Linked DNA regions of Homo sapiens: all the other regions are reported to be linked to region 1. Evidence: microRNA targets listed by miRTarBase, many of them from high-throughput screens and not tested one by one. Region 1 holds a microRNA gene; each other region holds the end of a gene's coding sequence.
What was found. The annotated mature microRNA hsa-miR-6755-5p reads UAGGGUAGACACUGACAACGUU and lies in region 1 at 4,352-4,373, opposite strand. An mRNA with a match to its seed (bases 2 to 7 or 8) in the 3' UTR can be bound and repressed. Matches are read on the target gene's strand: a 7mer-m8 pairs with bases 2 to 8, a 7mer-A1 pairs with bases 2 to 7 and ends in A, and an 8mer does both.

Region 2: the mRNA of ATXN7L3B is a reported target of hsa-miR-6755-5p. Seed matches in the 3' UTR shown: 7mer-m8 at 4,874-4,880.
Region 3: the mRNA of MARCKSL1 is a reported target of hsa-miR-6755-5p. Seed matches in the 3' UTR shown: 7mer-A1 at 5,136-5,142.
Region 4: the mRNA of AIDA is a reported target of hsa-miR-6755-5p. Seed matches in the 3' UTR shown: 7mer-m8 at 2,083-2,089.

Annotation. Positions count from the first base shown.
Region 1 is chr11:86,275,321-86,282,710 of GRCh38, reverse strand. MIR6755 (microRNA 6755) reads right to left here and starts at 4,378; the gene lies at 4,313-4,378. EED (embryonic ectoderm development) reads right to left here. Exons shown (of 12, transcript NM_003797.5): 10 at 5,573-5,731; 11 at 4,720-4,793; 12 at 3,901-4,312. The coding sequence ends at 4,186.
Region 2 is chr12:74,537,264-74,544,653 of GRCh38, reverse strand. ATXN7L3B (ataxin 7 like 3B) reads right to left here and starts at 6,819. Exons shown (of 1, transcript NM_001136262.2): 1 at 1-6,819. The coding sequence starts at 6,541. The coding sequence ends at 6,248. RefSeq lists enhancers at 5,796-5,885, 6,555-6,604.
Region 3 is chr1:32,329,110-32,336,499 of GRCh38, forward strand. It overlaps MARCKSL1 (MARCKS like 1), which reads right to left and starts at 7,124. Exons shown (of 2, transcript NM_023009.7): 1 at 6,838-7,124; 2 at 4,730-5,988. The coding sequence starts at 6,924. The coding sequence ends at 5,488. It overlaps HDAC1 (histone deacetylase 1), which reads left to right. Exons shown (of 14, transcript NM_004964.3): 7 at 1-51; 8 at 1,469-1,577; 9 at 1,659-1,799; 10 at 2,365-2,473; 11 at 2,567-2,697; 12 at 2,981-3,133; 13 at 3,592-3,640; 14 at 3,908-4,517. The coding sequence ends at 3,935. It overlaps LOC124903949 (a long non-coding RNA gene), which reads left to right and starts at 6,268. Exons shown (of 2, transcript XR_007065661.1): 1 at 6,268-6,395. RefSeq lists silencers at 975-1,175, 5,946-6,385, 6,526-6,605, 6,736-6,885, 6,906-7,390 and an enhancer at 6,777-7,346.
Region 4 is chr1:222,664,299-222,671,688 of GRCh38, reverse strand. AIDA (axin interactor, dorsalization associated) reads left to right here. Exons shown (of 10, transcript NM_022831.4): 9 at 1,439-1,556; 10 at 1,700-3,676. The coding sequence ends at 1,796. It overlaps MIA3 (MIA SH3 domain ER export factor 3), which reads right to left. Exons shown (of 28, transcript NM_198551.4): 28 at 3,682-6,380. The coding sequence ends at 6,070. Among named protein-coding and RNA genes, the nearest start is that of AIDA, 44 kb to the left of the region's middle.

The DNA.
Region 1 (7,390 bases):
CTCTTTACAGAAAAAACACCCTGATCTGCAGAGATAATATACAGGAAACTAGTAACAACAAAACTGGAATGGGTACTACCATATGTGTTGGGGCAAGTGTAATTTGGTACAAACTTAATAAGAAAGAAATATCCTATCTAATTATAAAATGAGCCTGAGAGTTACACAAAGACTTGTGTACTGGCCTGTTATTCAAAATACTACCTATAATAGCAAAAATCTGGAAGAAATGAACATGTCCAACAACAAGGCATTAAATAGATAATGGTACATTCATGGAAATGTATTAAAAGATATGCAAGCAGAATAATCTGTTAAGAATTACTGGGAATCTGAAAATGCAGCATATAAACAATATATTCAGACAATCACAATTCTTTAAACTTACACACACAAAATACATCCCATCACTAAAAGCAATTATTTCTGTGTACAAAAATTAAAGGTAGTTTTTACTTTTTTCTTTATACTTCTAAATAAACTGCATATATAATTTAGAAATTACTTTTTAAAGGGTGAGCATGGTATTGATATTTTGTTTAAAGTCTTTCTTGGAAATATAGAGTAAATTTTTACAGTTAAAATAAAGTCTGGGATGTGCTTCGAAACAATCTGGTGTAGATGTATAGATAAATCAAGATTGGCTATGTATTGATAATTGTTGAAGCTTGACTTGGTTCATAGTATTCACTACTCTCTTCACTCTTCTATATGTTTGAAACTTTCAAGTATAAAGTTAAGAAAAACAACCCTGTCTTGTCTTTTCGGAAACATAATACTCAACATATCAAAGCTGGTTTTATCTTTCCTAAGACACTGTGTAAGAAATATACTGGACAATTATTGGGTCAAAAAAGAAACTACAAGAGAAAATGAAAGATGTCTTGAAAGCCTGGCACAGTGATGCATGCCTACAGTCGTAGCTACTTGGGAAGCTGGGGCAGGAATGGATCACTTGGACCCAGGAGTTCGAGGGTGCAGTGACAGCTATAACTGCACCTGCGAATAGCCACTGAACTCTAAGCCTGAACAACATAGCAAGACCCCGACTCTAGAAACATATATAAAGATACCTTGAGACAAATGAAAATGGAAACACATGTCAAAACTTATGGGATGCAGCAAAAACAGTTTTAAGAGGGAAGTTTATAGCATTAAATGCCTGCATTAAAAAAGATCGCAAACCAACAACCTAAACCTCAACACCTCAAGGAACTAGAAAAAGAACAAACTAAACCTCAAGTTAGTGGAAGGAAATAACAAAGATCAGAGCAGAAATAAATGAAATAGAAAATAAAAAAATGAAAAAACAAAAAGCTAAACAAAATTGACAAACCCTTATAGCAACACTTAATAAGAAAAAAAGGACTCAAATCAGAAATGAAAGAGGAAATATTACAACTGTTAATACACCAAGTCTCTCATCAAAGAAAAGCCCAAGACGGCACTTTTCTGTTTCTATTAAACATTTAAAGAATTAATACCAATCCTCACATTCTTCCCAAAAATGAAGAGCAAGGAATACTTCCAAACTCATCTTACGAGGACAGTATTAGCCTGATACCAAAGCCAGACCAAGGACACTAGCAGAAACAATATCCCTGATGAACGTAAATACAAAAACACTCAACAAAATAATAGCAAACCATCATCTTCAGCAATACATTAAAAGAATCATCCACCATGACCATGTGGGATTTATCCCTGGGATGCAAGGATGTTTGAACATATGCACATTAATAAATGTGATTCACCATATTACCAGAATGAAGGACAAAAACTGTACATTATCACAATAGAGGCAGAAAAAGCATTTGACAAAATTCAACACCCTTTCATGATAACTCCCAACAAAATAGGTATAGAAGGAATGAATGTTCCTCAACACAATAAAGGCCATGTGTGACATGCCAATAACTAACATCATACTCATTAGTGAAAAGTTGGAGGCTTTTCCTTTAAGATGAGGAACAAAGTGAAGGATATATTAGCCCAATTTGCTCATTCTACATTGTATACATGTATGAAGCATCACATTGTACCCTATAAATATACACAATGGTCAATTAAAGACATATATATAATTTCTTCTTGGTTTCTATTTCCTGATACAACTTCTAAGACCCTTGAGAATATAATTTCTTCTTGATTTCCATTTCCTGATATAACTTCTAAGAACCTTGAGATCACTTGAGTGAAAATAATGTGTTTTTGTAGGCTAATGAGATAACTGGTGACTGGGGCCTCTGGATAACATCCATTAGGAAAAGAGATGTTACTTCCTTAGTATTTCAGGGAAAGGAGAGAGGGCAAAAATAGAGTATAAACATGTGGCTGATAACTGGCCTGTGAGTTCTGACTCCTGGATCTTTCATTATCTGCACTAACTTTAACACTCGATATTCTAGCCTGGTCAACATGATAAAACCCCGCCTCTACTAAAAATACAAAAATTAGCTGGGCATCGTGGCACACACCTGTAATCCAAGCTACCTGGGAGGGTGAGGCACGAGAATCACTTGAGCCTGGGAGACAGAGGTTGCAGTGAGACGTCTGAGACCGCACCACTGCACTCCAGACTGGGCAACAGAGTGAGACTGTCTCCAAAAAAATTAAAAAACAAACCTCAAGAATGGAGTAGTGAATAATACATTTCTACGGACCAAAAGGAAAGATGATATTCTCACCCAGTTAATCATGCAACAGGAAGGATTTCATTATGTGGTATTTTGCAACAAGAACCTAGGCAATCTCATTTTGCTAAAAGGATATGACAGTATTCCTTGTCTTTTGTGATGCTGTACGTAAGAATTTACTTGCTATAAAGGTTTACTTCTTGAAGTTCCTATTAAAATTTCTAAAAAACAATTGAAGCGTTCATTGGACCAAGACAGTAAAAGGCAGTAAGTTTTCCTGTTTATTCAGACTTAAGCATTATACTATTATCAGAGAAGTAAACTGTGCTTCAGAGATAGCTCAAAAAGGGGCAGTATCAAACACTGTACAAGATATCAAAACTAAACTTTAAAAATATACATATTTATAGAAACAAGTTCATGAATCTTTTTAAAAACCTGACAAAATTCAGTCTTTTGTATTTTTCTCTGGCTCACCTCATTTCACCTCCAACCTTAGCTTTATGATCATTCAGGCTTTCTTCACTCCTCTGCTTCAAGTTAACCCCTCCACATGTGATCTTGGTCTTCACTCTTTAGGGAATTTTTGCCCACAAATAAATGCAGTGTGCCTTATGTTGGAGACAAAATAACCAACTATTCCCAACCTTATGATCTCAATCTACTTAATCCCTCTTAGCCAGTAACATCCTTCTAGAAAAGGGGCAACAACTCACTACATGGACATACTTGCCATCTCTTTCATGATCCAACCCACTGCATTTAAACTTCTATATCCTCTCCTCCTTTGCCCTAATGATATCTCCTCTAAGGTTACCAATGGCCTAGTTCCAAATCTAATGGCAGTAATATTTTTTAAACTATAAAGAAAGGTTACAGTTAAACATTATCAGAGGTTCTAACTCTGTAGAATTTTAAATATTACTTATGAAACTATTACATAAGAAATCATTAAAAAATATAAAACCATAGGAACTATAATCTCCAATAATTATAAACACAGAATACATTTAGGGCTTATTATATGTCAAATACTGTTCTAACTGTCTCACACATAACGAATCATTTGATCCTCACAATAACCCCAAGGCAAGTATTATTATCCCTGTTTTATACACAAGGAACCAAGCATTGAGAAGTTGTTTATCCAAGGTCACGTAGTAGGAGAGCCAAGATTTGAATTCACTTTAGTTCTAGAGCCTATACTTAATCTCTGTATTACAAAACTTTCTCTGGTTAAGAGAACTACAAAAAACAACCATTATAAAAAGATAAGGCATAATTTTATTACTTTTAACTTTTTTTCACCACAATGAAAGTAACTAAACACACAGCTTTACAAAAATAAATTTTTATTAAAAGCAGTAGAGTCTGAGCAGGAAGACAGTACAAAGAATGTAAACAATGTAAACATCACTACATTCAGCTCAGCCTGATTGAATGCTGAAAGACAACTCTAAATGCTCTACGTGCCCTTACTAGCAAGATACATTAATTCTATTTTACACAGACAACAAACACACTCTAATTTTGATTAGGCAAAAGTATTTTATCGAAGTCGATCCCAGCGCCAAATACTGGCATCATCACAAACAGCTATAAGAATGCTGCTATCCCTGCTAAAACTGGTTTGTCGAATAGCAGCACCACATTTATGATGAGTCAGTGTTGTACATCTAGGGAAAAAACATGACAACAGGTTAAAGACCACACATAACGTTGTCAGTGTCTACCCTAAAACAGCGGATTAGAAAATAAGCAGATGTTCCAAGTCATACGAAAAGCACTTAAAACCAGAATATACTTCACTAAGAGCTCAGTCTCAAATTTTATAAAATTTAGATATATTTTAAGTTCAACAAGCACTACATAATTTGTATAAAAACAAGAAATGACTTGTCACCAAGGTACTTAGGAAAAACAAAAATTATTGGAATAAAAAAGAATAACTTTAACTCTGAAAACAGTAAATGTTAAAAATGACTTAAGGATGGCACTGCAAATATAAATGATCTTCTCTACATTGGCATACAAGTGTGGAGAAAAAGCCTGAAATTTTGAACAGAAATTTCTAAATACTTACTTGGCTTTATGAGGATCTTCTACTTCTAAATCCCAAACATAAAGTTTGCCAACTTGATTGCCCAATGCAAGCATCTGTATAAACATATTTTTAAAAACATCAAATTAATAAAATTACCAGGTTCTAAAGCATTGGAGGAATCCTCAGACAGCTTTCTTGTTTCAGAAAAAGCTCAGTTCCAGCCTCTGTGCTCTTGGCTATTTCTTTGGGTCTTATACTCCTGATTCGTAAATATGAATAAGAGCAATTAATACATCACAAGTGTCTTGAGCAAGTAAGAAGGCATTGTGCAAATTTATGAAGGGCCTTACAAATTTACATTGTTAGCATGGTACTTACTTTTTCTTCTGCCTTCAAGAAATACAGCAAATGCTGTGGAAAGCCTTCCAAACTTTTCTTACAGAAATAAATACCCAAGTAATTTGTTACCAGAAAATCCTAACAATAGATTTATTTAAATTTTTAGGTAACTAGTATTTTATCTGTCTTCTATCCTGATTTTTCTCTAGGAAACAGTTACATAGGTAGACTGACAATCTAATTACTAAAACATTAAGTCTTAGTAATGTTATGATAATGTTTATGTTATGGAACATAAACACCTAATTTCCACCATTGATACCTAACTGCCAACTTAATTTAAAGTAAGCACTGCAGATCATATGCAGAGCCACAAAAGTAGAATGAATAACACCAAAGTATTTGATGAATGACATCAAAGGGCAAAGTAATCAATACAAAACATCAGGGTAGATTTGTAAAGGAAAAAGAACATGGACACAACAGAAAAAGCTAGAATTACAATGGTCTTTCATAAGTCAGATCATTTCAAAATGTAAAAGTATGTTGATACCTTTTGCCAGAAATCCATAGAAAACCTCATGTACCAAATGTCACACTGGCTGTAATCAAATCGCCCAAGAATAGTCACATTAGATTCACTGGGTTTAATTTTATCTATATCATCTTCCATCTTGCCAGGTTTCCAGCACACAATGGCATTTTCACAAGACTAAAACAGAGAGAGAAATGAGAAAAAGAAATGTTAATGAGGAACTGAATCTTACAAAGTAAAAACAAGGCTTTTCTATTGTTTTGGAATTCACAGCTCTTAGAACCTGGTTAATCCATCTATCAAGTACAGTGATGTACATTCATTTATATTTACAGTCAATGACCATACTTAAGGACAAGAAATCTGATTATCAACAGAATTCGATAATACAAAAGAATCACATTGTCTGAAATATTCATTTTGGAAGTCAACATTTCTCTTTCAAGTTAAACCAAGTTCAGCTCTAGATACTCTGACACCCAGAGACTTTAAGTGTTTTATAGCACAGGTCAATTACAAACACACAGAATTAGAATACATGGCTTTTCAGAATCCGGCATTAATCTGGCTCTTGCTTACTTCACTAGTTTCATCTTTCCCCATGCAGTCTCCCATTTCGCTTCTAATCACAGGTGGTTTCCTTTACCTTATTAACTATTATTCCTTCATCCAGTATCTGTGCCACACAGTAGGTACTCAACAGGTATCTTAGGAAAGTTGATGAACTCACATAAATAGCCTTAGAATTCAGTTTATAAATAGGGCAATCGAAGGCAAGTAAAGCAGTTGTTTAACATCAAGACACTCATATGGGGATAGGATTGAAATAGGCTTCAAACTTATACTTTTCCTATCCTATAAAATCAAATTTGTATGCACATACCTAAGCAGTAAGTGGTAAAGAATACAATGAGAAAAAATTGCAAAACTGTGGGCACTATTCATATTACTGTCTAGGTCAGTGGTTTGCCCACGAAGGGACATTTGACAATGTGTCTGTGCTCTAATGGGTAGAGGCCAAAGATGCTACTAAATATCTTATAATGCACAGGAAACCCCCTACAAAAAAAAGAATTATCTGGCCTAAACTAAATAGCACCAGGATTCAGAAATCCTCATGTAAGTGAACAGTGCCCCTAGAGTTTTACTGGACAGCCTACATAATATAGTGACAGGTGGCAGCCCTGTGGGGTTCACAGGCATTTAAATAATTTAATAGTATGGCCACTTGAAGATTAGGGAGGAGACAACACATTTTTCTTCTCTACCTTTTTTATTTAGACTTTTTAAATCCTAGTGCTATATGACATCTATTATTCAAGTTTTTAACTGTAAAGGACCTTAGAAACCACCCAGTGTGATGACTCTTGGCTAAATGCAAAATTGGATCAATAGTCTGTGGAGTTTTCTCAAAAGACTCATCTCAGCCCCTACTGATTCAGAGTCTCTCAGCCCCTACTGATTCAGAGTCTCTAAGAGAAAGGCCAAAGCAGAAGAACTGTAAAATAGCTCTTCAAGTGCTTCTTACTAACTGCACCGGTGAAGAATTTTTAAGTACTGGAGTCCCTGGATGGAAAAACTAAAGCAAAGTGAGGTAAAAAGATGTTGCCAGAGCTAATGGATGGCTGCACTTCAAAATCATCTAAGAGCTTTTTAGAACTACCAATTCCCAGGGCCTTGCGCCAGATTTAGAATTTCTGAAGGTGAGGTCTAGGAAATCTATTTTTCTAACATTCTCCTAGTGAGTCCGATGCAGAGCCAGATTTGAGACCACCAATATATTTCAGTTCAGCCTACCACCTAAAATTCAGAAATCCTTTCCAGAGATCTAAGTTC
Region 2 (7,390 bases), not on the chromosome of region 1:
ACATTAAATCTTTAATCCATATAGGAATTAATTTTGTGTCTGAGCACAGTTTTATTATTTATGGATAATCTGTTCCACAATACTGGTTTATATTCCACTGATTATAATACAAATTTAACCACACATCAAGACATAAACGTGTAATCTGTGTGTTTCGATCTAATTCTAAACTCTATTCTATTCCATTGTTTCTGCACCAAAACTAAAATATACATCTGTCAAAAAGATCTTGTCTATTCTAGCATCTGGTGTTCATATAAATCTTAAAATTAATTTGTCAAGTTCCATGAGCACATCTATTTGGATTGTAATACAGATTGCTTCCGATTCACATAATTTGGAGCAATGATATTGATTGCATTTTCTGTGCGTGAACATCTTCTCTCCATTTACTTGGGATTTTCCCAACATATTAGAAAATATTATTTTCTTTATAAAATCTTACACAGTTCTTGTGATATTATTTCATAGGACTGTTATAACTTGTTGAATTACATTCTAAATTTAATAACACTTTTTAAATGTTGGTATTCTGATTTTAGATATTGATCTTATATCCAGTAACTGTGCTAAATTTTCTCACTACTTTCAATGGTATGTTTGTAGATTCTATAAAATTATCCATGTAGATGTAGATGTCATCTGAGAACAACTGTTTCTAGATTCTATAAAATTGTTCATGTAAATATCATCTTAGAACAGTAAAAATTTTGTTTCTTCCATTCCTGCTTTTAAAGGGAGTGCTTCCAAGTATTCATTAATAAGTATAGTAACTGGTGTAGATTTTTGGTACATACCCTTTTGCAGTGTGTACAAGTTCTTGAGCTTTGGTTTCTATATTGTTAATGTCTTTGTTTTTTAGGCAATAATTCGTATTGAATTTTTTCAAACTATTTTTCAGTATCAGTTCAAATTTTCACATGGATTTTCTCTAATGGTAATGTGATGATTTTGAGATGAAATCTTGCCATCCTGTGATTAAACTGACTTGTTGATGTTTACTTTTGTTATTTTAAAGGAGTTGGTTTGCTAACATCTTCATTTAAAAAAAAAATCTATTTTGGTATTATTTTGCCTGTTTTTGTTGTTGTTGTTTCATTTACTGTATTCTCTATAAAATTCTAATTGTGTGGTGTTTTAAAAGTTATAGATGTATTCATTTACTTAAAAAATTAACAATTCCTTGAGTTACTTTTGAGTTCTATTTTAAAATAGACTTCCCTTTTTTTGTTTTCAAATTCATTGCCCTAACGTTGTTCATAAGCATCATGGATTTTTCATTGTTTTGTTTTTAATTAGTCGTTTGATTTATTACTCCATTGCTTCAACAAAGACCGCTGACCTAGGAGTCACAACAGCAGCATTCTACTTTTGCTTCCACCACTTGTAAATTTTTGCTTTTTGAACTATGGGCAAGTCACTGCTGCTGAAGATTTTTTTTTCATCTCTAAAATCAATTTAGTATTTCCTTTTTAGCTCACATATTTCCAATGAGTCTCAAGAAATATGATTGAAAATGTTTTCAAAAATGGGAAAACAAATACAAACAAAAACACCGCCAAGAGTTTAAGGTTTATCCACAAAACCTTTTTGAATAGGAACATCACTTCTAATGCTGTCCTCCAAAGCAACATTATGGGCATCTTTTGGAACATAAATGAAAATCAGAGAGCTCGTAATCCTTCACAGCAGAGTAAAACTTCTGAAATCTGGTATTATCTCTGGCTGACTTGAAAACTGGCAATTCGTTAACCATAATTAAACAACAACATGAAAATAAATTTAATAATTGTTGTGCTTTTAGCACATAGTTTCTTCATAAATCTCTTTTAAAAAATTGTAAGAAAAACTTCACAACACTTCAGATAGGTCTTAAGAGAAGGCAATGTTACTTATTAATGTGTGCACAAGAAAGTTCTTCCTGAATTTTTAGTTACTTCAGTACACTTCATTTTGTCTTTCACTTTGTCAACATCAAGCAATCATTTATCAGATTCTTGACCTGATGGTACATGCTGTAGTTAAATGCTAAATCTAGGAGGTTAAACATTGGTAGTTAAAAGGTATGCAATGTGTTTTTTTTTTTCTTTAAAGATCATACTAGTCAGAAAACATAAGAAATAACCTTCAAAGTCCCATTGTCAAGTATTTGGTAAAGCAGGGGTCTTGCAATTATCTTTTTAGAAAACTAATTAGCTTAGCACTAAATATATTAAACTCCAAACCTACAAAACAGGAACCAAAAGTATTTGCTGCAGATGTATTTGAAAGCTAATTGATAGTAGATCCCTACAGTGAATTTTAATAAAAGTAGTAGAAATCTTACTTAAGGCAAAATACCCAATCTTGGTGAAATTTCATTTGAAGAATTTCTCCTGCTATGGTTACATCATGGGTTTCACACGTCAAATTTTTAAGTTTTCTCAAATCACCACGTTGGCCCTGGCCTATTTAAACTGGACAGTGACAAGTACATCGAGTGCTCCTAGAAGAGAAGACTCAATACCATGTTACACATCTATAAGCTTCCCTGAGGTATCCTATTGAGTCAGATTCTTCTCTGGACTCATTTCTGTAATTTTTATTAATCTCAGTATTATGTCCAATACGAAACTTTAATAAATTAGAACACATAGCAAGAGACTGATTAGGACACAGGATCACTAAGTAGTTTCTAGGGGAAGTGCTCAAACTCTGGGTTAGGAATGGGATGAAAAACCTCAGAATTACTATTAAAAATGAAATGAAAGATCTAAAGTGTTGAGGTAATTTTTTAAGTATTGAGAAAAAAATTAGGCAGAACCATCGTCTGCTGTGAATCACTTTACCTTTTGAGAACAAGGATATTAGCTTAAAATGATGGTAAAATGTACTTACTAAGATATATTGAGTTCAATTCAAATGGAACTATCTGTCACAGTGGGCTTTTAGTGACAGGACTGGATTTATCTTACCACCTTCTTACCTCATATGGAAAAGGGATGATTGTATACGGTTTGGCTCTTTCACTGGATGCTACAGACAGTTAAATTTGCAGGCCAAATTGAGAAACAAGGTTGGACAGTTTCTCTGTTCTGATAAAACTCCTGTTAGGGAGGAAGTATTAAGGTTCAATAGCATTTCAACGTTTATCTCATTATGTCAATGCCTGAAAACATACAGCTTTAAAAGATGAATATACAGAGTCCAAGGACCAAGTAGTCATTTTTTAAAATTTTATTACTGTTTACCAATGGGGAGATGCAGTTTATTTACACCAGCAGCCATAGGGGAAAGGGGAATACAGTTAATCAGCTATCTGTATAGGATGGACTACTTATGCAAAAATAAAAATCTCCAAAACAAAGGACAGTGGTGAGCTTCACTACCCTCCCCCGATGATCCCAGCATGCGATAATGCCAGGCAGTGGTCCCTGGGCATGCGATGGTGGGAACTAATGTATGGAAGAAAAAGCCACAAACCACAGAAATTTTAAAGAACCCCCCCCTTCCCCCATAACACACACATACACACACACACACACTCAGATACATAATAGGATTGCAGGGTGATCAATACACATAATCAAGGGAAAAATAGGAATTCTGCTATTAAAAGGAAGGTAGGTAGGGAAAGGGAGAGTTCCTAACCACTGTCAACTATATGGTAGGGAGCATTCTCTCCCCAGAAAGGAGTATGTACCCTCTGGGCACCTGTTGGACCAAGCCCACCTTATACCCATCCAGGGCAGGAGGCTACTGCCCTATTGGTAGAGGGGCCAGAAACAAAAAACAAAAGGGGGGTAATATGAACAAAATACTACTCAAAACTACTTTCCGCTTCCTCCTCTAACCAGGAGAAAAGGCCAGAAAGAAAACAGTAATTTCAGGATTTGAGTTCCCTATCTGAAGGCAGAGGGATTGGACTGTGGCCTTTCTCCTTTACCATCATCCCACTTCCAAGACATTGTTAGGAAGTAGGCCAGAGTCTCACTTAGACTCTCCTTTCTTCATCCTCTTAGATGTCGTCTACAAGTCAAGGGCAAAGATATCTCCAAATTATTTTAGCTCTTGCCAAGGTTTGATTTTTTTTAAGTTAATGCAATTCTTTAAGACTAATCTGTAACTAGGCCCCAAGCCTGATCAGGACAACTCTAGGACAAGGCAGTAACAGTTCCAAGGCCCAAACTCTATGGTTTCCTTAATCCTCTAAAGTATGTAATCTAAATCAGTCTATACAGTCTAAATAGTACCTTCTGGGATAAGGATTGATACATGCACAGCAAGGGTGAGAGAATGGACAAGGACCAACTCCATCCCCCTGTGTGTCAATCAGCCTTTACTGCTCTTCTACTTAGGTCCTAACCGGCAGTATTGAAATGGAGGTGGGAAGATACAACTCCTTATGAAGTAAGACACAGCAAGAGGGCACACTAGCAAAGCAGTCCTATATAGGAGAAATGCTTATAGGCATGACACTGCATTTTAAATACAAAAAATTAAGTTCTCTTCCAATTCCAATCTCAACAGAGGGAGCCATAAGAAAGATTCTCCTCTGAGTCTTCTACAAAAACAAGGGAAAAAGAAAGAAAAAAAAAAAACAGAGGCCAAGAAAAAAGAAATTGGGCAGGCTTCGGAAGCAGGAGCATTAAGAGCTGAATTGAAACTGTTCAATGTGACAGCTGGAGTGGCAAGCAGCACCTGGGGCACCAGATAGGCAGTGGAGCAGGGGACAGGAGGAACACAGGGCCAAGCCAGACAGATGAGGCTGGACCCCCTACTGGGGCACAGAATGAGGTAAGAAAACATTTCAAATAAAGCAGCACCGTTCCCGCTCACCTCGGGGCTCCCACCCCTTTATACTTCATAAACCCTCGCTCAGGGAATAAAGTGGAGGGTAGTTTTGATATGTGACTCTTACTTCCCATCTTCCCCTATACCATTCCCTAAAGTCAGGAGATTCTGGAGGTCTTTCTCTGACTTCTAACAATAAAAGGACTGCTCCTGTTGTCAAGAAGATCCAAAGGGGACCGAGTGGAAAGGACTATCCCTTTCGAGCGGCAGACAGAAAGTGGTGACAGTCTGGATGTTCACCATAGCAGAGCTCTGACTGCCCAACCAAAGAAAACAGGGACATTCAACAGGATTCTGCACACAGTCAGATGAGATAATCCAGTCCTGCTCCTTGGCTCCTAGCACTAATCCATTCACATTATTGAGGGCAGCTGAAAGTGCCCTCTGGGCTCAGTTTTCAAACCACAGCCTCCTGCACAGCCATGATGCTCTTCCATACTTCAGTCCTGCCCCCAGGGTGGGAGGCAGATAGTGACCTGACTTAAGGACCAAGTCACACCCATGGACTGGCTAGGTAACCAGTAACTCAGAGTAGGAAATGACCGCCCTACTAAACTTATATCCACAGCATAATACATCCAGACATGAATCTTGAAGTTTGAGAAATCATGCATAGTTGCAGAGGTCCCTGCTACCTCCCCAGGGGATCATAACCGAATCCTCAACCTGTCTGGACAACCAAGTTGTCCATTTGCCAAGCCTATGCCACCAGGTTGGAGGGCAAGGAAGAGGGCTCTGCTCAGCCAAATGCTAGGCCTTGTCCTCAAGTCAGCTGAATCATTGTAGTCTGGACTTTTGGGAAACACGTGGTTTTGACCTTTTCTTCTTGCTGGAGTCAAGGCTACAGAGCTTCCCTATCAAACTTGATAATTCTTTTTCTTGGATTTCCCAAACTGAAACTGTTAGTATCCAGATCTTGCACCTGACATTTACTTGTCTCAGAGAAGCCCATAACAGAGGTTCAGATATCAAAGGAGCAGTCCCACTGCAGGCCACTGATCACGGCCTGACGAACTGTAACGTCCAAACTGTCCAAGAAGCCCTTGACATCAGGCAGACAGAAAGGCTGAGGAACCAAAAATTTTATATGCTGGGCACACAACTGCTCACCTGTGCACTGGGGGCACTACAGGATCTTGCGCACATCCTGGTGTGTTTAGAGATCAACAGGCACTGCATGGCCCGCAGGCTGTGCAGCTCCTCCTGCCCAGGGCTTCAGAGCTTGCTCCAGGTAATACACTTTAAAAAAAGGATTCCTAAATTATCCACTTTGGGTTTTTAAATGCTAGGATCTTCAAGGGGGAATTAAAACTTTTGTCTGATTTTTCTACTTTTTTCTACTTAGCTTACTCCTCGAAGCCACAGGACCAGTCTATGTTATTGTCCTGGCCACTTTCAGACTCTCATTTTGCAGCTACTGGAATTCCGGAGGTGAGCGCTGCAGCTGCTGATCAGGCCCATTCCCAGGTTCTCCGGGAAGGGAGCAAAGCGGGAGGCGGCACGCTCCTTTGTCTTCCACTGGCTGAATGCCAAAATCCTTCACGCTACCAGTCTCTGCGAACTCCAGGTAGAAGTAGCCACACTTGACTGCCCGGTGCACCTCAAAGCAGAATCCCAAACAAGAATCCTCTATCAGGTCTACGTAAATCTCCTGAGCGATGGCCTCTAGCTTGTTAGTATCCAGGTTGGCCAACGAAATTTCCTCCATTTTAATTTGTAAACGAGTGCGGAGAGGGCGCTCGTTTTACTCACGGCAGCAACACGTCTGGCTCCGCGGGCCGCGCCTAGGCCTAGAGGCCTTTCAGTGCCCAGTCCTCCGGCGGCGGGGTCGGTGGCGTCCGCAACTGCAGGAGCAGCGATAGGGGCGACTGCTCCGGAATCCCAAGTCCTTCTGTTTGTTTTGACGTTTCCCGGGTTGCGGGCCTTTCAGCTGCGCCTGGCCCAGGACTCACCGCCAAACCGTCTCAGCGCCTCACCCAGCCTCCTGGGCCTCTTCCGCTCCCCTGTCGGGCCTAGCCCCGCCTCTCCGCTTCCGCCCCTCAGAGCGCCTGCGCACTGGTTCCGCGCAGACTCTTGGGGCTTCTCAACGCGCTGCTGCTTTGAGAGCGTTTGAGTTTATGAAAAGGAACAGGATGAACTTAGTGTATGACTTCCATTATCTCTGATTATTAAAAAATTGCGAGGATGCTATTTTATGTTACTTTATTTGTAAATTTAAACATTCGCTAATGAATTCAGCAGCCACGCTTAATTGATATCCTCTGAAAAGTGGAAAATTTTAATAATTATATGCACTGTTGTGGTGTGATTCGAAACATCATTTTAGGAACAGTTCTCCGGAGGTGTTTGAAAATTTGACTTACATGATTGACTGGTGAATCGTTTATAGCAATGCTGCAGTTGTCATTTAAATCCACTAGATGGTGCAAGGAAACAAATTACAGTATAGTTTATCTTTCGGTCTTTTTTTGAATGGAAAAACTGGAAACTTGGTACTAAAGTCATAATTCGTATATATTGATCAAATAAACCCATGGCATCTATCTCACTTATGAGA
Region 3 (7,390 bases), not on the chromosome of region 1:
CCGCTCCGAGACGGGATTGATGACGAGTCCTATGAGGCCATTTTCAAGCCGGTAAGTGGCTTTATCCACCCCTTGGGCTACAAACAGGGGATTGGTTGGCGGTGGAGGGGAGCAAAGCACCCCCACCATACCTCAGGAATCTCTCCTTACTAAAGCTGGTGGGGAGATAGAAGTGTTTGAACCCTGGATTGCTGTGTGGTCAGTTAGGGGAACAAACACCCATATTTATTGGTTCCTTCTATGGGTCAGGTCTTCTGCTGGATACAAAAATATCTAAGACATGATCTTTGCCCTCACGGACTATGGTGGGGAAGGCAGGCACATACCCAGTAGTCTATGATTAGTACTGTTTTTGTATCTCCATTTCTTTGGGCTGCTGGGAGATTATTGTGTTCTTTTGGTAGTGGTATGTCTCCTTGGTTTTTTGTGTTCCTCATTGCCTTACATTGATGTCTGCACATTAGAAGAAGTAGGGACTTACTCCAGTCTTTGCAGACTGGCTTTGTCTGGGAAAGCCCTTTGCCAGTCAGCCCATCCAGAGATTCTGGAAAGGCTGTGTGGCATGTTCCATGGGTAGGCTGGCCTAGTGCCTGTGTTTTTGAGGGATGATCAGAGGAATGAGAGACAAACTACTGCCTGGGCTGGCAGGAGGGTAGCCAGGGATGATTTCACAGAGGTGCTGATGTTTAAGCTGGACTTTGGAAAATGAGGAGGTGCCCATGTGAAGAAGGAGGTGATGGCAGTAAGGGTGGCATTTAGTAGAAGGAATGGCACTAGCAGAAGTGCAGAGGTGCCAGTGTGGCAGCATGTAGGCCAGTGTGGTGTATGGGAGGAGTGCTGAAGGAGGCGGTGGGAAGTGTATGCTGGGCTCAGTATTTCAAAGGGAGCCTTGAATGCCATGCCAAGGAGTTAAATCTTCACTTATAAACAGTAAGAAACTGCTTAACCTAATAAGGTCAGGTAGTCATTCAGCAAACACTGACTGCCCACTATGTGCCTAGTATTTAATAAGGGCTACAGAAGTGGGAGTTGTGGTCTCGGTCTCAGTAACGTTAGACTCTGCTTGTGAGAATAAGATAAACTAAAAGTGCTTGCTCATAATGTAAGGCTTCAAGTCTGTAAGACCGAATGAGTAGAGTAGATGCAGCTAAAGGTCAGGAAGGCTTCCTGGAGGAAGTGGCACTAGAGCTTGGGCAACAGAAGAGACTTAGGGAGTTGAGAGGGAGGCCATTCTAGGTTCAGTGTTACTAGAGTGTTAGAAGGGTCTTAGAGAACTTTTTAAATTGGAAAATTGAAATCCCAAGTGGGCAAGCAAGGGCTCCAGCCTAGCACTCCCTTTTCTCTCCCACATAGCATGAGGGAGAGTGGAAAGGTAGGAGTGGGTGGGAAAGTGTTGCACCCAGCCTTTCCACTCCAAACCTCGTATTGCTTTCTTGAGGTTGGTGGTGACCAGGATGTATCATTTTAGGTCATGTCCAAAGTAATGGAGATGTTCCAGCCTAGTGCGGTGGTCTTACAGTGTGGCTCAGACTCCCTATCTGGGGATCGGTTAGGTTGCTTCAATCTAACTATCAAAGGTGAGACCAGGTAGCACAAGGATGGGTGGGCGGGGTCCTGCTTGGTGCTCCTGTAACTCAGCACCCCTTCTCCCACCAAAGGACACGCCAAGTGTGTGGAATTTGTCAAGAGCTTTAACCTGCCTATGCTGATGCTGGGAGGCGGTGGTTACACCATTCGTAACGTTGCCCGGTGCTGGACATATGAGACAGCTGTGGCCCTGGATACGGAGATCCCTAATGGTAATAGCTGCAGGGCCAGGTTCGGCTGGGCTGGGTGGGAGCTGGAGCTCATCTGTCCTTAAGTTTATAACCCCTTCCCCGTTGGTCATATGACCGCTCCTCTTCTGATACTAGTCACTGAGTCTCCTGCCTGTCCTCTTGTGATCAGCAGACCATAACCATCACTTTTTCCCTAGTCCTTTTTAGCTCTCTCCCCTCTCCCTCCTGCTTTTGGTCTGGACAAAGTTCTCATTGGTAATTTACAGCTTTGGAATTTCTACTCTGTAGAGTAACTGGAGTAGCGAGTGAAGGGAGCGCTCATAATGAGCATGGCCTCAAGTGTCCTAAACCAGGGACATGGGCCTTCTCCTAGCGACATATACACCACTGGTACAGACATAGGAGAGTGATGTTAAAAAGATGGAAATCCCATAGGTACCCGTGTCTCACAGTGTCTTGGAGGCATTCTCCTCTGTTTGGATAAATAGGCCCAGAGAAACCTACAAATGCTTTAGGGTGCTTACGTGCAAATGGTTAGGGTGCGGTGGCCAGGTCTCTTGACGGTCTTCTCTCCTGCCCCAATCAGAGCTTCCATACAATGACTACTTTGAATACTTTGGACCAGATTTCAAGCTCCACATCAGTCCTTCCAATATGACTAACCAGAACACGAATGAGTACCTGGAGAAGATCAAGTGAGTATATCCTCCAGCCACCCCTTGGTTGAACATTCCTGACTTTGGTTTGTCCCTGACCAGAGCCCTGCTACTCTCTCCCATTGGCCACAGACAGCGACTGTTTGAGAACCTTAGAATGCTGCCGCACGCACCTGGGGTCCAAATGCAGGCGATTCCTGAGGACGCCATCCCTGAGGAGAGTGGCGATGAGGACGAAGACGACCCTGACAAGCGCATCTCGAGTGAGACCCAGACCTAGAGCCCTATGCCTTCCATTCAATAGGCAGCTCACACTTCCACCACCATTCCTGGCTGCACACTCCCTCCAAGCTCCCCACCTGTAGAGAAATCTGTTTTCGAGTTCCAGTGCCTGTAGGAACAGGTTAGGGAGCCCGAGTTCCTCCCTCTTCTGGTTCCCTTTCCCTTGGTGTCTCTTGGAGGACACGCAGGGAAGCACTGGGCATAGATGCTGAGCTAAATCAGCACCCGCCTGCCCTCTCACCCATGCTTCCCACTCCCTCCCAGTCTGCTCCTCTGACAAACGAATTGCCTGTGAGGAAGAGTTCTCCGATTCTGAAGAGGAGGGAGAGGGGGGCCGCAAGAACTCTTCCAACTTCAAAAAAGCCAAGAGAGTCAAAACAGAGGATGAAAAAGAGAAAGACCCAGAGGAGAAGAAAGGTGGGTTTGGGTTCAGCTGGGACTTGGGTCTCGAGCCTGAGAGGATGAATCTATGTAGGGCAGTGGGAGGAGGGAGTGACTCAGGCCCTGCCAGCTCCTGTGGGGCTCTTCCTCAGTTCCTTGAGCCTTTCAGTGGCTCCCAGAAGTGGCAGAGCCCACAAAACAATGAACCTCTACTGCCTGAGCACGGCTCTCACATACCACCCCAGCCCTTTTCCCAGCACTGCACCCCAGTTTCCCAGGGGGCTGCCTCCGCCCACCAGGTTCTGGCTGTAGCAGGCTGGGAAACCAGTCCAACCTGTTCTCAACAGGGCTCACTGGGAGGACCAGGGATGGGCTTTTCTCTCTTTATGTCCAGTGAGCTGTAGTGTTGGGGAAGGGGTCTCAGGGTAAATGAAGACCTCATGGGTCTTCCCAGAGGTGCTGCCCTTGGCCATCCCTGTACTCTTGTGTTCTAGAAGTCACCGAAGAGGAGAAAACCAAGGAGGAGAAGCCAGAAGCCAAAGGGTGAGGAAGGAGCTGCCTGTGGCCATCTCCCTGGCATTGGAGCACCAGCCCCTTTGTCCCACCACTCTGAGGAAAGGCACAGGGACAGCTGGTCCAGCTTACAAAGGCCTCTTTCAGGGACCAGTCTGTCCAGCTCTGCAGTTCTAGGCAGAGCTAGGAGCCCCAGCCCCCAGTAGTCACCTAGGATCCTGTGGAAGTCACTGTCTGCACTTTTGCCCTGAGGCTCTGGGCTGGGTCATCTCATGCCAGTCTCTGCTCTCTCCACAGGGTCAAGGAGGAGGTCAAGTTGGCCTGAATGGACCTCTCCAGCTCTGGCTTCCTGCTGAGTCCCTCACGTTTCTTCCCCAACCCCTCAGATTTTATATTTTCTATTTCTCTGTGTATTTATATAAAAATTTATTAAATATAAATATCCCCAGGGACAGAAACCAAGGCCCCGAGCTCAGGGCAGCTGTGCTGGGTGAGCTCTTCCAGGAGCCACCTTGCCACCCATTCTTCCCGTTCTTAACTTTGAACCATAAAGGGTGCCAGGTCTGGGTGAAAGGGATACTTTTATGCAACCATAAGACAAACTCCTGAAATGCCAAGTGCCTGCTTAGTAGCTTTGGAAAGGTGCCCTTATTGAACATTCTAGAAGGGGTGGCTGGGTCTTCAAGGATCTCCTGTTTTTTTCAGGCTCCTAAAGTAACATCAGCCATTTTTAGATTGGTTCTGTTTTCGTACCTTCCCACTGGCCTCAAGTGAGCCAAGAAACACTGCCTGCCCTCTGTCTGTCTTCTCCTAATTCTGCAGGTGGAGGTTGCTAGTCTAGTTTCCTTTTTGAGATACTATTTTCATTTTTGTGAGCCTCTTTGTAATAAAATGGTACATTTCTATATCCTCCTGAGCTTGTTTCCTATGTGTCCCTGGGTTGGTTTCAACTCTACTTCCCTGCCGTTCTGGTGTCCATGAGTATTGGGGCAACCCCCTGAACAAGAAAACCCCATAAACTTACCTGCCTGCCTTAACTCCTCCCTTGAGGTTTGAGGTAAACTACTTTCCACCAATCTTCTCACCCTACCCCCAGAAGACCACTCATTAAAGCACCACTAAAGGGACGACATTTATTCCTTTTCCAAATGTTACAGTAAAACCAGGTGGAAGAGAATGGTTTTAGCAGTTAGAAAAAAAAAAAAAGTACAAATCTGGGGTTTGGCCATTAAAAGTTATTTACAACAGTGGGAGAAAAAAAGACAAGAAGTTGTTTCACATTACAGACCTCCCCCCACCCCAAAGCCTAATACTTGCTTACCAAGTCAAAAAAGAGACACAGTTGATTCACAGGCTGGAGGTTTGAACTTGAGTAAGACATTTATAAAAACCTAGACGGGGCAGTGTCCTCCCCAGCCCAGGTGCCACTAGGCACAGCACAAGAGACTAAAAACAACAGGGGAAGGCTGGACACTCAAGGTTTGGGAGTATAAGCACCCCACTTCTGGCTCAGGGATTTGGGGAGTAGGGTAAACAAAACCTACTTGGAAAAGAATTGGGGAAGAAAACCAACAACTGCCTTATGCAGGGGTGGGGACAGGGAAGGAGGTAGGGCCAGGGACAGGAGCATTTCACATCACTAACCTAACTTGGGAAGCTGTAAGGGACCATCTTCAACTGGCCTTAAGAGGAGAACCAGATGGCTGATGGGAGAATCCACAGGAGGGAGAGGAGGAAAGGGAACGTGGCTGGGAGGAGGCAATAGCCCCTTCCTTTCTGGGCACAGGAAGGCAGCCAGGGCACCAGGTCCAGGCAGTGACCTCACAAGGACAGCACAGTTTTTGCAGCTTAGAGATCACCCACCTGCCCCTACCTAGCTACTCATTCTGCTCAGCGCTGGCTGGTGTAGGGCCACTCTCCGGCCCCGAGGGAGTGGATGGCTCTGTAGCCTGGGGCCCTGCCTCTTCTTCTGAGGCTGCACTAGCCTCTGCCCCCTTGGCCTGGGGTTCCTGGCTCTCAGGGGTGGCTGCGGCCTTCCCTTCCTGAGCAGTGCCCTCGTCGCTGCAGGCACCGATCTCCCCCTGCTCCTGCTCTTCCTCTGTGGGTGAGGAGGCAGAAGAATCACCCCCACCCTCCTTCCGATTTCTCTTGAAGGACAGGCCGCTCAATTTGAAAGGCTTCTTGAAAGAGAATTTCTTCTTCTTCTTGGGGGTCTCCTTGGGGGGGACCTCCCCCTTGGCCTCAGCACCCTGGCTAGGGGGTGCTGGCTCGATGGCATCGCCAGTGGCCCCGGCTGCCTCATCTGTTCCGTTCACAGGGGGCGACTCCCCTTCACCCTTGGGGGATAAGTCTCCATTGCTTTTCACGTGGCCATTCTCCTGCAGGGCAGAGGGAATAGCAATGAGGGCAGGGGCTCCCCCTCCCCCAGCCCGCTTCTGATCCCTTCTAGAGGAAGGGGTCCTCGATTCGATTCTACTGCAACCCGAAAGTCTGGCTTCAGCCTCACCCACACCCAGGATCCCGTCAAACACCTCCCTCTCGCCCCTCACGGGCGCGCGGGGAGCGAGCGCGCAGAGGGCGCGACCGGCAGGAGGCGCTGGGGTCCCGTGGCCCCCACCCCCGTCCCCCGGGGCGCGCTCTCTATTCCGCGCGGAACCGCTCCGGATCTGCTGTGCGGATCCCGGGCAGGCGGGCGAGCCGCTCTAGGCGACATTGGGCGGGAAGCCGCCCCGGGGCGCTGTCTCTCTGCACCTGGACGGCCTATTTTCCCAGCCTCCCGCTTTGTGTAAGTGGCCCCCACCCACCCCAGGCTCTCCCGCATCTCGGCTCCCCCTTAAAAAAAAAAAGACCGTGGGCCACCGAGGTCGGGTCGGCGGGTGGAGTGCGCTCCCCGCCGGGCCCCAGCTCCGCGGCCCCTGGGCGCCCCCTTGGCGTGGCCCAGCAGCGCCTTTGTTCCCCGCGCGGCACTCGGGGCGGCCGGGGGGCAGCGCCGGGGACCGGGGCCGCGAACAAAGAAGGCGGCAGGGCCCGGCCGGCGCCCCCTCCCCGCCCCTCCCCTCGCTTCGCCCGCGGGGGCTGCGGCGCCGAGAACAAAGGGACCGGGCGGGGGAGGGGGCGCCGCGTGTCCCGGGCCGGACAAAGCGCGCGGCCCCGGCCCCGGCCCCGGGCCCTAGAAGGGGCGAGGTGCGAGAGGAGGGGCTGGGGCCGGCCGGGCCAAGCGTACCCACCTGGCCGTTGGCCTTCGCGGGGGAAGCGCCTGCTGCCTCCTCGGCGGTCACGTCGCCCCGGGGAGCCTTGGAGCTCTGGCTGCCCATGATGGGGGTCTGCTGGGGGGCGCTTGGAGCCGCCCCGGGCTCGCGCCGCAGGGGATAGTACGGCGGGGTCGGCCCGGCCGGCGGAGGGGTGGGGCTGGCGCCCGAGGGGGAGGGGTGCCGGGGGAAGCCGAGCTGCACCTCCGCTCCGCGGCCGACCCGCTAGCTGCGCCCGCCGCCGCTCCGCTCCGCGCCAGAATGCCGCCCGCCGCCCGCCGAGCTGCCTATATATAAGCGCCCGGAGCTCGGGGCGGGGCCGGACATTTAAATGCGCGCCCAATCGAGGGGCGGAGGCGGGGTTGGCTCGCAGGCCCCACTTGCGCAGCAGGCGACGCTGGCGGTCGGGTACCCCCCACCCCACCCGAATCCCAGGGGCAGGTAGAGTCCGGTGTGGGCAGGAGCGAGGCCAGTCCTCCCGCGAGCTGGGCGGGGCGGGGCGGGGGGCCTGGAGGAAGGAGACGGGCAGTCA
Region 4 (7,390 bases), not on the chromosome of region 1:
CCTTTCGAGCGTGTTGGGAGTGGATGGCCAAATATGCCCATCTCTCCCTCACCCACATCCCATTGTCTCCTGAGCAATTGGTTTTTTTTTCCTCCCTTGCCATGTGATGTGGTCCATTTGGACCCAAGTGCCAATGCTGTACACACATTTCTGAACATTGCTAAACTTCTAGTGACTTGTGAGTTTTGTCATCAGCGGCAGTATTAAATGTATGTTGTCTTTGCAAGCCAAGCTCCTGGACTGCTCTGGTTAAGGCAGTATTTAGAAGTAGCTGGTGAAGAGTGAGACACTGACTTCCTTCACTTTCCATGCCTTCTTTAGAAATTCATTTTTGTTGGCCACATTGATGAGGCAACTTATTTCTCCATTTTTAGCTTTTTTCTGCAGGATTGGGGGAAGAGTTTATCTGTTGGACTTTGGGGACATAGGACCGTCTAAATTTCTTATTTTTTTCTTTTTTTGAGACAGAGTCTCACTTTGTCACACAGGCTGGGGCACAGTGGCATGATCATGGCTCACTGCAGCCTCAATCTCCCTGGGCTCAGGCAGTCCTACCAACTCAGCCTCCCGAGTAGCTGGGAGTACAGGCACGTGCCACCGAGCCTGGCTATTTTTAAAATTTTTTTTGTAGAGGTGGGGTCTTACCACCCCCTTGTTGCCCAGGCTGGTCTCAAACTCCTGGGCTCAAGTGATCTGCCCATCTCTGCCTCCCAAAGTGCTGGGATTACAGGCATGAGCCACCGCACCCGGCCAGAACTGTCTAAATTTCTCATTATCACTTGCTCATTGGAGGAGAGTGGCAGAATAAATAGATTTGCTCTTTGAACCTTTGTCTTCTACAGCACTGTCTTGACACAAACATGCAATTCCAGGAAAAACATCACAGCAGTGCTTTGAATACTGAAAAAGGTGTTAAGGAAACAGATAACATTTTCCAGCTGAGCCAGCATGTGATTTATGTTGTTTGAATTCCAAAATACCCCCAAGATTGAATTTTTGAGTTTTTGTTTTGGGGTAAGGGAAACAATTCGAGCTTAAATTTTTTTAGGAACTCTTTTAAATGCATTTTCTACCTAATGAGTCTCTATGTGTATTGAAGTATCTTCTCTGTTCTTCTGTGGCATTTCATATTTTATAGCAGCTTATGATTCTACCTGTGTACATAACTGTTATACATTCTTGAGGCAGTCTAGCTCAAGAAGTTTTGCTATAGTTTGTAGAATTGGATGATAAGGAGAAATGTCACTCTACTCAGATACAGAAGAGTTCGGGGTGACAACCATAGTAAGTTACTGTCAAATCATTGAGACTGGCACAAGTTGTTTTGTCAAATTATGCCAGCTGTAGCTGTTCATATGCTTCTGGTGATCAAAGAAAATTAATTGACACACAAGAAATGTGCTATCTGTGGTTTATGTGGCTTGTTTTAATTCCTTAGGTGCAGCTATCTTCTTTGAATTCAAACACTACAAGCCTAAAAAAAGGTTTACCAGCACCAAGTGTTTTGCTTTCATGGAGATGGATGAAATTAAACCTGGGCCAATTGTAATAGAACTGTAAGTGATGTGCATATAGAATTAGTACTAATTTGATGGTGACTAGTATATCTTTCTTCTGAATCCCCCATATCCAGTATTTAACCTTGAAGAGTTCAGTTATCAATGTATTTTAAACAATGGTCTTTCTGTTGTGATTACAGATACAAGAAACCCACTGACTTTAAAAGAAAGAAATTGCAATTATTGACCAAGAAACCACTTTATCTTCATCTACATCAAACTTTGCACAAGGAATGATCCTGACATGATGAACCTGGAACTTCTGTGAATTTTACCACTCAGTAGAAACCATCATAGCTCTGTGTAGCATATTCACCCTTCAACAGGCAGGAAGCAAGCCGTACCCAGACCAGTAGGCCGGACGGAGTCCAATGCAAAGCTGTACCACAGAATTCAGAGTCCAGCACATCACACTGACGTATAGGACTCCTTGGGATACAGGTTTATTGTAGATTTTGAAACATGTTTTTACTTTTCTATTAATTGTGCAATTAATAGTCTATTTTCTAATTTACCACTACTCCTACCCTGCTTCCTGGAACAATACTGTTGTGGGTAGGATGTGCTCATCTTCAGACTTAATACAGCAATAAGAATGTGCTAGAGTTTACACATCTGTTCACTTTTGCTCCAATATGCTCTTTTGACTTAACGTCAAGCTTTGGGTTGATGTGGGTAGGGTAGTGTCAAACTGCTTTGAGAGGAATGGGACCAGTTCTGCTGCCTAAGAAGGTCTGTCTGGATGTTTATAGGCAGCACCTCTGAAGTGGCCTAAATTCACCCTGATCTGATAGTTTTCCTGCTTAGAAAGTGTGCCTTGGCCAGATCAGTATCCCACATGGGAGTGTTCCCTAGGTTGTAGCTGTGATTGTTTCCAGATGACCAGATTGTTTTTCTGAAAATGAGCATATTTTTAGTCATGTCGATTAGCTGTTCTTCTACATCACATTGTTACTCTTTCTGATGATGATTCTAGGGTTAACATTGGAACCATCTCAAAATAATTACAAAGTTTTAGATGGGTTTACAATGTCTTCTAAACAATGTAATCTAAAAATAATTGAGTCAGATGCTAACGAGATACTGCAGGCATAACTGCTGTTTTTCTGACAACTGATTGTGAAACCTTAAAACCTGCATACCTCTTCTTACAGTGAGGAGTATGCAAAATCTGGAAAGATATTCTATTTTTTTTATATAGGTAGATAGGATCGCCATTTATTTCCTATTTAGATATACTGACATTCATCCATATGAAAATATGCAGGTCATTAGCTTACTATAATTTACTTTTGACTTAATGGGGCATAAATAAAACTTTCATAGTACACATGAGGTGGATATTTGATACACAGAACATTTGCGGTGGGCTTTCTGTGGGTTAGATGTAAAGCCCACATATTTTAATATTCACTATTTTAAATGAGCAATGCATGAGGGGAATGCAGTGTCAGTACCTGGCCTATTTTTAAACTAGTGTAATCACCCTAGTCATACCATTCAGTATGTTTGCTTTTTAAAATAAGTAACCACAACTAAGTTGTTGTAGCCCTTGCACTTCAAGAGATCTAGTCTTTACTTTCAGTTGTCTGTTAGGTCCATTCTGTTTACTAGACGGATGTTAATAAAAACTATGCGAGCCTGAATGAATTCTCAGCCAAATTTAGTCTTGTCTCTCATCTTGATTGGATTAATTCCAAATTCTAAAATGATTCAGTCCACAATAGCTCTAGGGGATGAAGAATTTGCCTTACTTTGCCCAGTTCCTAAGACTGTGAGTTGTCAAATCCCTAGACTGTAAGCTCTTCAAGGAGCAAGAGGCGCATTTTCTCCGTGTCATGTAATTTTTCTAAGGTGCTTGGCAGCACTCTGTACCCTGTGGAGTACTCAGTACCTTTTGTTTGATGTTGCTGACAAGACCTGAAAAAAAATCCCTTAAAAAAAAAACCCATTAAAGTGTAGCAAAACCGATGTATTATTTTTTCTCTTTTCTCATAAACCATAAGATATGTATATCAAAATGATAATTTATATGAAGCATCTGCTATCCTTCACATAAGTATAGTTTATATGAACTACAAATACCTTTCATCAACATTAAAGAAGCTTAAATTGAACACTGTGTGATTAACTTAACTTTAATTCAGACCTGAATATAACGAGAAAATGAGTGATTATCTTGAAGTTGACACAGAATATACCACATCCCACGAATTACTTAAATTTACTTTCCAATGAAAAAAATCAGCCATTGGCGATATAACTACAACAACTATGGCAGAAATGCTTTCAGGCTGAATATTGCTGCTTCATAAATAAGACAATTTTAGCAACTAAATCCAGACACAATTAGTTGGAGATGACTTCCAAAATAGATGAAACTTTAGAGATGGAAAAGTGATTTGGCTGAGGGATGATACTCCCTATGCCATCTGCATATTGGCACCCTGCTTTGGGGTTTGCTGCAGAAATGGTGCAATCAGATGGATGTGAGGAAGCAGTTATGGACTGGCTCACAACTTCTCAGAGAAGCTACACTGGAATCTTTACAGCTTACCAGTTTCTCAATTATGTCAGATACAGAATAATCACCAAAAAAGGCTTTAGAGGGGAAAAATACTCTAATATTTTGAATTTTAAAAATAGATTTAATTTACCTTTCCTACTTACCTTCCTAGATGGCATAATCTACACTTAAATGACATTTAAAATTAGAAATTATATTAACTTCAGCATTGTTTTGTGTCCTAAAGAGATATTGACAGGTAAATTCAAAAGTTGTATTTGTGACTTAATCTTATTTTTACATGGCTAAAAGTGGCCTATGCTCTTCTGTGGAGTTTTCCTCTTAATTTCTTCTATTCTTGATATTAAACGGGAGGACATATAGATTGAATTCTCTTTTCCTGAAGAATTTTTATATTCCTTATGAACTTTGACAGAGTTGTCTTCTTTCAAAGGTCCTTATCTTTCTAAACTATCTATCTTCAGTTGTTTAGTATAAAGAGAGAAAATTGTTTCACATTGAAGCTTTTGCTCCTTTTTACAAGGTATTCTTAATCGATTAAATATCACAACAGTGACAAGACATACACTAGGTTTCAAAAATATTACATCATAGGACTTCAAAGAATGGAAGAATATAGCCTAGCAGCAAACAAAAGTATCAGCCTTTTATGATTTTAGTTTTAGTGTGGATCTGAAACTCCTTAAAAGGAGTGCTATTATTACTGTAATTAAAATGTCTGAAGTTCGTTCTTAGAAACGTTGTAGAGTATTTAAAGAAACATTGTTTTAAAGACAGTGTAGTAATGGATAAGACTTTAAGTATGGTGCAATTCCAGATGGTTAGTTACTGATTTTTAAATAAAAACACCAACGTTTAAATATTAATTAATATTAATTTTGGAATAATATCTGTCGCCCCCATTTCCCCCTAAAACAGAACTGATTTCAACCCTTGGTTGCTGACCTAGGGCATGTTATAACCCTCACAGTCCTAAATCATTCTTTCTCATGGCATTATACTCTTCCAATCTTTTTATTATATTCCTCAAAAATCAGTGGCAAGGAATGGGAAAGATAGATAAGGGACTGTACATTTTAAAATTTTTAAAGATTTCTATACTTTTATGGCCATGACACATCATTTTCATTTTTCTGTTGTGCACCCTTTTTCTACAGGAATGGTAAAAACAATGGAACATCAGGTCAAACAACTCTTGCTACTAATGTAAACTCACTCTCAGAAAACCATTCTCAAATAGACAATGAGGATCGTAAAGAAAGCATGTGAATGCTATACAAGTGGGAAATAAACTTCTTTGAAATAAAAAGACGTCACTTGTAGAGTTCACAGGTGACGGAGGAGCAGCCGGAAGTGTGCCACCAGCCACCATCTTCAGTTCTGGGAGCCTGAGTTTACATGTTCCCCAAATGGCACAAGCCTCATAACAGTCCAATGAGTCAACAGACACTTGGGAAATATTAATAAACAAATTTTTATGAGCTATTACTACAAAGAACTTCAGCAAGAGGGGAGATAGTTTAGTGATCTTTTAGTAAACATTTTTAGCGTAACAGTCTTTGTGACCAGATAGTTTAAAAAAACGCTTATAAACACCATTGCTCCGTATTCAGCTGGTGTACACTAAAAATAGGATAATGGAAATACATGTTCTTAAAGCATTTCCACAGGAAATGTTCATATTTTTCATGACATTCTAAATCATTTTGCAATTACATATGCTACATTAGCTAAAACACAGGTATTCTTTATTGCACATTTCAAAGTTGTAAGGACGCTCTAGCTTAAAAGGTGATTTTTATTTAGGGAAGAAATGACATTTTTGAATTGTTTGGCTCAAAAATGCACACTGCCAAGGCAGCTTAGTTCTAACAACAAACCTTTTAAAATAAACTTTTGGATTTTGAAGCCAATGAAATCCTTTACTGTAATGGATAATGCACAGTACACTTTCTTTCCAATGAAACCTCAGAGGTCATAGTTTTATGGGCTCTGTTTTAAAGCCTGTGAACAGTCCTGGCTAGTGCTCTGAGAGGCAGGTGGAGGCTCATCTCTAGAGCCTGACGGCAGTAAGTCTCTTACAGCAGGTGGTGGTGGGTATTCCTGGGGACCATGGGTTGGGGGTGGTAATCGGGTACCAGGAATAAAGTACTCTCTTGGGCCAAGTGAACCTAAAGGTCTAAATGGTGCGTGTCCAGGTAAAAATCCCCGAGGGTGGAGAGGCAGGTCCCGTCTTCCTGGTGGAACGCCTGGTGCAAATTCTCTTAAGCCTAGTGGTGGACGCATACCAGGGCCTGGAAAACAAAAATTATTTCCAGTAAATTCCTAGGAACGTATTTAAATTAAGATAATGCCAGGTATGTTAATATAGTCTGTCATCCTTTTTTTTTTTTTTTTTTTTTTTTGGCGGCAGGGTCTTGCCTGTCACATGGGCTGGAGTGTAATGAGTGATCATGGCTCACTGCAGCCTCAATCTCCCGGACTCAATCAATCCTCCCACCTCAGACTCCCCAGTAGCTGGGACTACAGGTGCACGCCACCACTCCCAGCTAATTTTTGGATTTTTTGTAGAGATGGGGGTTTCACCATGTTGCCCAGGCTGGTCTCAAACTCCTAGGCTCAAGGGATCCACCTGCCTCAGCCTCGTCTAATGAATGCTGGGATTCATAAAGTGCTGGGATTACAGGCGTGAGCCACTGTGCCTGGCCTGCCATCTTTATCTGAAAAAGAGAGATAGATTTGTACTTGGAAGTACTATATACCATACCAAGAAGACAGACTAAATATGGCTTCATTGCAATAAAAATTTTGATAAATTCCATTAACTACTGTGTATCAGTTAAAAATTTATGCAGTAGCTCAAGATGTACCTAATAAATGCCATAAAAATTAAGGTGCTTGCCCTGCTGGAAAAGGCTTTCCAGCTCCATCTAATTAAATTCAGCAGCATTCATTAGATAGCTGTTAAATTCTACCTTCTCTTTCATATCTCCCTTCTTTGTATTCCCAAGGTGAGGGTTGAGGGTTTTGTCTTTCCTTAATATTCTGTGACCTACTGCTTATGCTTCCATTATGGGTGATTAGAAGCTTTATGTTGTAGAATGTGTATATTTGTGACCTACAGGACATCTTAGTTAGGGGATGTATTTTATCTACCTTGCTATCCATTGCAGAGCCTAGTACACAGCCACAGATGTTCAATGTGATGAATATTTCTGGCTTTTTATAAATAGCCCCTTTCCTTGTTCTATTAGAGACAACTATTGCCCATCTAATCACAGGAGATTATGTAGCACCCTTTGTG